Homo sapiens: one gene and its partner. The protein of the gene in region 2 purifies or fractionates together with the protein of the main gene of each other region. This does not show direct contact. Each region holds a gene or a part of one and is shown on either strand. Other genes may lie near its edges.

The links.
Region 1: the proteins of SPEN (region 2) and EPB41L5 purify together in Homo sapiens (co-immunoprecipitation; one large-scale study listed by IntAct). This does not show direct contact.

What each region holds. Positions count from the first base shown.
Region 1 is NC_000002.12:120,085,842-120,089,664, forward strand, and holds part of EPB41L5 (band 4.1-like protein 5), read left to right. Parts: intron 1-1,329; coding exon 1,330-1,399; intron 1,400-3,823. UniProt on the Homo sapiens protein: Plays a role in the formation and organization of tight junctions during the establishment of polarity in epithelial cells.
Region 2 is NC_000001.11:15,934,473-15,937,920, reverse strand, and holds part of SPEN (msx2-interacting protein), read right to left. Parts: coding exon 1,655-3,448; intron 759-1,654; coding exon 276-758; intron 110-275; coding exon 1-109. UniProt on the Homo sapiens protein: May serve as a nuclear matrix platform that organizes and integrates transcriptional responses. In osteoblasts, supports transcription activation: synergizes with RUNX2 to enhance FGFR2-mediated activation of the osteocalcin FGF-responsive element (OCFRE).

The DNA of each region.
Region 1 (3,823 bases), on a different chromosome or scaffold from region 2:
AGATAAAGAAAGCTCCTTTTCTGCCTTTTTATAAGGTTGTCTTGAGAGTTAATTAATACTTGTAAAGCACTTAGAAGAATACTTAGGGCAGACCAGGTGGCTCACTCCTGTAATCCCCACCAAGGCAGGGGCTCACCTGAGGTCAGGAGTTCAAGACCAGCCTGGCCAACATGGTGAAAACCTGTCTCTACTAAAAATACTAAGATTAGCCAGGCATAGCATGGTGGCACGCACCTGTAATCCCAGCTACTCTGGAGGCTGAGGCAGGAGAATTGCTTGAACCTGGGAGGTGGAGGTTGTAGTGAGCCAAGATCACGCCACTGCACTCCAGCCTTTGTGACAGAGTGAGATTCTGTTTCCTTTCTTTTTCCTGCTATTATTTCTTCATTATTGTTTTAGTAAAGCTCTTGTAAAGTTATGTTTTACATCTATTTTATATGTTATATTTAAAGATTAGTCAATCGGAGTGTCACATTGTTTCGACATTCACAATTTATGGAAATACAGAGTTCAAATGTGTGGTAGGTGGTTTGGAATTTACAAGTAGGGAGATACAGTTGGAAAGCGGGCCATAAAGCGAGGTTAAAAAAATTAAGAAGTATTTCCTCTACCCAAAATTCCTGTTGAAAACAGAGTTGAGGCTGGTTGCAGTGGCTCACGTCTGAATTCCAACACTTTGGGAGACCAGGGTATGCGGATCACTTGAGCCCAGGAATTTGAGACCAGCCTGGGCAACGTAGCGAGATGCCGTCTCTACAAAGAATACAAAAATTAGCCTGGTGTGGTGTGGGAGTAAGGCTGAGGCAGGAGGATTACTGGAGCCTGGAAGTTCACGGCTGCAGTGAGCTGTGAACACACTACTGCAGTCCACCCTGTGTAATGGAGGGAGAACCTATCTCAAACAAACAAAAAGAGTTGAAAACCATCGTCAGTGTTTTTCTTTATGGCTGTTTTTTTTAAGCTTTATGGTCGTTCCTATGTCTAGTTCCTATGCTGCTGCTCTGCTTTAACACTGGAACAATTTTCCCTAGACCTAAAGAATCTCTTACACCATAATCGAGACCTATCAAATACATAGATTTCATTTTCCTTAACATTTTTAATGTCTGATATGTGCAACCTCAATTTTGTCTGAGATTTGCTTTTGAAATATGTACTGTGTTTTTCTGTTTCCTGTCTTTTGATGGGCATTGCAAGTTACGTTTACCGTCCTGTCAATTTTTAGTTCAGGAGTTAGATGGTTAAATGTATTTGAAATAAAAACAATTTTTTTCATATTTAGAGAACATTTGTTTGTAATTTGGCTTTTATTCTCTTATTATATTATAGGCCGAAGATAACCAGATTGGATTTTAAGAAGAATAAATTAACCTTGGTGGTTGTAGAAGATGATGATCAGGTAGGAATAAAATTATATTCTATTACTTGTGTAACAGTGACTGTATTATGTGGTAACTTATTTCTCTAAAAGAGGGAATGTACCTCATTGTTTTAAAGAGCCACAGAATGCAAACAGTATAATTAATGCTTTAAATAATTTCCTTACTTGGGTCATACCATGCTAAAAATATGGTTTTCTGCCCTTAGGATGAAAAATAATATAAAAGTGTCTTCTTGTTTCCTCATTGATCGTATATCTGAGGTGTATAAAAAATTACATTTAAGTGAGCCAGCCAGTCACCCAGGCTGGAGGGCAGTGGCACTGTCATAGCTCACTGTAACCTTCACCTTCTGGGCTCAAGTGATCCTCCTGCTCACTCAGCCTCCTGAGTAGCTGGGACTGCAGGCACATGCCACCACCACGCCTGGCTGATTTTTTCATTTATTTGTAGAGATGGGATCTCAGTATGTTGCCAAGGTTGCTCTCAAACTCTTGGCCTTAAGTAATCCTCCCATCTTAGCTTCTCAGCATGTTGAGATTACAGGAGTAAACCATTGTGGCAGACCAACTTTATCTCTTTATTAACTGATCAAAAAGATCTACCTAATAATAATAAAGCCTTTTGAATTAAAGATTACCTTTGTATCAGTTACAGTGTGGTTCTTAATTGATACATGCTTGGATGCAACTCACATGCATTGTTCTTAATGCAAGAAGCCAGATTTAAAAAATTATGTATTGAATGACTCCATTTATCTGATACTTTAGAAAAGGCAAGAAGAATTTTACTTTATGCAAATTAATAAATTTTAACATATGCATACAGATACAGATAAAAGCAGTTTGAGCAAAATGTTAACAGTTGTTGAGTCTAGACACTATGTATATGGGTATTCAGTTTTTCTGTATGTTTAAACATTTTTATAACGATGAAAATTTTTTTTTTGAATCCAGTTCTTTCATTTTCCTCTGCTCAGTAATTTGACTGCTATACTTTTCCTGTTTTAAACACACAATGGGATACTATGCAGCCATAAAAAAGAATGAGATCTTTTTTGCGGGACCATGGATGGAGCTGGAGGATATTATCCTTAGCAAAGTAATGCAAGAAGAGAAAACCAAATACTACATGCTCTTACTTACAAGTGGGAGCTAAATGATAAGAACTTATGAACACAAAGAAGGCAACAGCGGACACTGGGATCTACTTGAGTGGGGAGGGTGGGAAGAGGGAGAAGAGTAGAAAAGATAACTAACTGAAAGATAACTGGACTTAATACCTGGGTGATGAAATAACATGTGCAATAAACCACCATGACACGTGTTTACCTATGTAACAAACCTTCTCTTGTACCCCAAACCCAAAATAAAAGTTAAAAAATAAAAAAGAGTGCTGCTCTGAACACTAAGGTGTATGTATATTTAGCTTTTGTAGGTACTGCCAAACCTCTTTCCAAAGTATTTAATACGAGTTTATACTCCCACCAGCAATGTTATTGGTGTTTTTTTTCTTTTTTGCTAATGTTTGGAATTCTGTCTTTTTCATTGTAGCCATTCTTGTGGAGTAGAATGTGGTTTTAGTTTGTGTTCCCCTAATGACAACTCTGGTTTAGTACTTATCTGTGTAGTTATTGGATATGTGGATATCTTCTTTATGAAATGCCTACTCAAATCTTTTGCTTATTTTTCTATTAGGTCATGTGCCTTTTAGTCATTGAAAAAATTCTTTGTATGTTCTGGATATTAATTCTCTGTCAGATATTAGTGTTGCAAGTATCGTCTACTCCTTGTTTTGCCCTTTTTCCACCACTTTTATTTTTAGATGACATATAATAATTGTACATATTTATTGCATACAGAGTGATATTTTGATACATGTATACAATGTGTAATTATCAAATCAGGGTAATTAGCGTATCCATCTTTACTGTCTTAATAGTGTCTTTAAATAACCTGAAAAGTACCAAAAATTATAAAATAGATAACCATCTTATTAATGATCTAGATTTAACATTTTTTACATTTTGCTTCAGTTCTCTTTTAGAGAAAGATAAATACAATTATGTGCATGAATAAATAATACCAACTAAAGTCTAACCCCCTGACTACCTACCCCCTTTCTTCTGGTACCTGGTCACCAATTTTGGAGGGTATTATTCTCATATATATTTTGTAACTTTTTCCAAATATTAACTCATGTTAGAATTGTTTTAAAAACTTGCATAATTATATATATTTGCAGCTTGCCTGTTTTATCTAAACGTGTACCTATGTAGATCTAACATATATATATGCTATTGTGTAATATGAATAAACAATAGCACATTCATTCATTCATCATTTATTCATTTATCCCTCTGCATAATTTTTTACATATGCCTCTATTTACTTGACCATTTCTCTTTTTTTGGACGTTTAGGGTTTGTACCAAGTTTTACTATT
Region 2 (3,448 bases):
GGGGCAGGGACCGATGGGCCAGGACGTTGTTGCCAGAGACGAAGTGGAGCTGCACAGCAGCTGTGTCATTCTTGAGGGCCAGCAGGCCCTGCCACACGATGGGGTACTTCTGCTCACAGGGAAACAAACAGGAAGTGAGCTCATGGCCCCTCGCTGAGCCATGCTGGACACAGCCAGAGGCTGTAGCTTGTGGGTCTGTTAACTAGGGAATCTTAGGACATTTGACATGGCATAAAACTTGGGGGCCAGGAAGGGCAGCCCCTGCTCATGCTTACCTTCAGAAGTTGAACCATATCCACGGGTCTCTGGGAAGTCAGGTGTGGAGAGGAATCTTGTTTGGGGGCTGGCTGGAATTCAGTGTGTGGCAGAACCAGTCCTGGTGGGGTGCTGGGGCCAGAGGTTGTTGGGACAAACAACGGCTGTTTTGGGGCAGTCTGAGTGGGAAGAGAGACTGGAAGGTCAGGCTTCATGGAGACAGACACAGGGGAGGGGAAGGAAGTCGGGCCTGTTTCTGCTTGTGCCCTCTGAACCTGGGTGTGAGGCTCAGGTGGCCTGTTTGCAGGTCCAGCTGGGAGGCGAGGCTGCTCTACTCCCGTCTGGGTCCCCTTTGCCTCCTGGGACACTTGAGGCATCTTGCTGCTTGGTGGCTGGCCGGGCTGACCGAGCTGGGAGGGCGGGCAGGGTGGTGCAGGCTGGGCAGGCTGTGTGGACTGCACAGGCTGAGGAGGCTGCAGGGGCTCACCTTCAGGAGGAGGGCCCTGGTGTAGGGAAGGAAGGCAAAGGGACAGAGTCAGTCTGTTGTGCACAAGCCCCTGAGACCAACAAATGACCCAAAGGGCCACAGGGAAAGGATAAGATGTGGCATCTCCCGTTAAGTCAGGCCCACAGAAGGAGCCTGAATCAACGGAGCTGCTTTCGGGGTTCCAGGTAAGGAGAGATCCCCTATTACCTGCCTCCTGCTGATGCTACCCAGCAAGAGCTCCCTCCCCATATGCAGAACTCCCCATGATGTGATCTAATACTTTCATCTCAGAACTAAGAAAGCTCTTTAAACTCATGAAAAGATCAACATCTTTAGGGACTAGCTGACCAGTTCACTTGTACTCAACCACTATCTTTACCAAAAGGCGGATTTCTTTTTCTTTAAGTAGGGACAGAGTTTCACCATGTTGGCCAAGCTGGTCTTGAACTCCTGACCTCAAGTGATCTGCCAGCCCTGGCCTCCCAAAGTGTTGGGATTACAGGCGTGAGCCACTATGCCCGGCTTTTTTTTTTTTTGAGACTGGGTCTCGCTCTGTCACTGGAGCCTAGTGGCACGACCTTGGTTCAATGCAACCTCTGCCTCCAGGGCTCAAGCAATTTTCCCACCTCAGCCTCCCAGGTAGCTGAAACCACAGGTGTGTGCCACCACACCTGGCTAATTTTTGTAATTTTTTTTTTTTGTACGAGATGGGGTTTTGCCATGTTGCCCAGGCTGGTCTCGAACTCCCGGGCTTAAGCAGTCCTCCCATCTGGGCCTCCCACAGTGCTGGGATTACAGGCATAAGCCACCACACCTGGCCCCTGATTTCTTTCACACATCTTGGCTTAAAAGCCTGCTGAGCCCCACAAGCACATGCCCAACAGACAGTGGGGAGATACCTGGCTGGCTCACCTGAGCAGCTGTCTTGGTCCGGGAAGGCAGGCCAACAGAGGAAGCGGCGGGAAACTGAGTGTGTGTGAGCTGGGCCGGGGGGTGGTAGGTGCGGATGTCGCCGTACCGGTACTCTTGAAACAGCTCCCCGCTGGAGTGCACAATCTGCACCCCATGGGTCACCACCACAGGAGGGGTCAGAGGCAGCCCCTGGAGTTGGTTACTGGGGGTAACTGTGAGGATACGGGCCTCACCATGAGGGGCAGGAGCAGGGGCAGGAAGGGGGACAGGGACAGGGACGGGGGCAGGGGTGGGGGTGGGGGCAGCTTTGGCATCTGGTGTCTTGGCAGCTTCCTTCCCTGGCTGCTGAGGGGCCTTGCTGGCTGGTGGCACCTTCACCACCCCATCCGCGGCCCTGGGCTGCTCGCTGACTGCCGTCACATGTGGATGCACCATGATCCTCACATCCCGTGGCACAGTATAGGGGTGCAGTCGGTACTCAGACTGCATGACTAGTACCTCTGACTGCACAGGGGCTGTGGCTCGAGCGACAGGAAGGTGATAATGCACTTCCTCCTCGGGAGGGTGCTGGGAGGCCAGTGCAGGCACACCAGCTGGGGCTGGCTGCGGGGTGCTGGCACGCTGTGGGGCCCTGACCTCTATTTGCTGGGGCTGCAGCGGAGCCCGAGGAGAGTGAAGCGCTTCTGGCCGGATGCTGTAGGTGATACTGGGCAGCGTGGGAGTGTTCATTCTCACCTCGCCCTGGGAGAGGTGGCTCAGGGACACAGTCTGGGTGATGCTGTGGGGTGGCATGATGACAGACTGCTCTGGGTGGATGCTGGAGATGAACTGGGGCACTGGGATGCCTGCAGCCAGCATGACTGTGGCGTTGGTGGAGAGCGCCGTAGATGCAGTACTGCTGGGGTGGCTTGCCCTTGGGAATGAGGATGGCCCGGGTCCACTTGGTCGAGGAGAATGAGCATCTAGCTTTGCAGCTGCCAAATGGGAGACAGTTCGATCTGCTGGGATGCTGGGCCCCGAGGGGACATGGTTGACTTCTGTAGGCAGTTTGCTGGGCAGAGCAGGAGGGTGGTGGGGCGTGAGCGTGGACCCCAGGTTGGCCGGCTGAAGGACCTTGGTCTCGATTTTAAGGGTGACGGGGTCAGCAAGCTTCTTGTTTGTGGTGACAATGCTTGGGGTGAGGACCAGCTGGTTGTGAACCAGCACAGGGGGTGTGTTGATCCCCTGGGTGAGAACCTTCACTGTGCCTCCCTGGGTGACAGGCGTGGACACCGAGAGGTGAATGGGCTCGGGCTTCTCCAAGGATGGCCTATCGGCCTTCACAGACGAAATCACAGGAGAGGCATTATATGTCTGGGCGGTCAGTACCAACGTGGAATGGGTGGCCACGTTCGCATAGCCTGCAGGAGCTTGAGGGCCTTTGGATGGAGGCTGCGATGCTGTGACAGAATCAGGTTTGACCTGGGACTTGGACACTGACTGCTGAAATTCAATGTCCATTGCACTGGCCGGGGGGATCTGGCTGATCTTGGCGCTGATCCGCTGTGGGCCTTCGGTCTTCTGCCCTGAGTAACTCAGGAGCACAACCCCTTCAGAAGTGTTCACACGCAGCCCCGCCCCTGAGCCCGCGTCTGCCGGACGATCGTCGATCACAGGCATGGACCCTGGGTGGAACCGACTGTTTTCATTAGCACTCGCTCTCTGTTTGCACTTTGTTGACGGCGCAATCACTGCCCCTGCCATTGTCACCGTGCCTGTTGTGGCCGTTACACCACCAGATGCAGCAGTAACCGC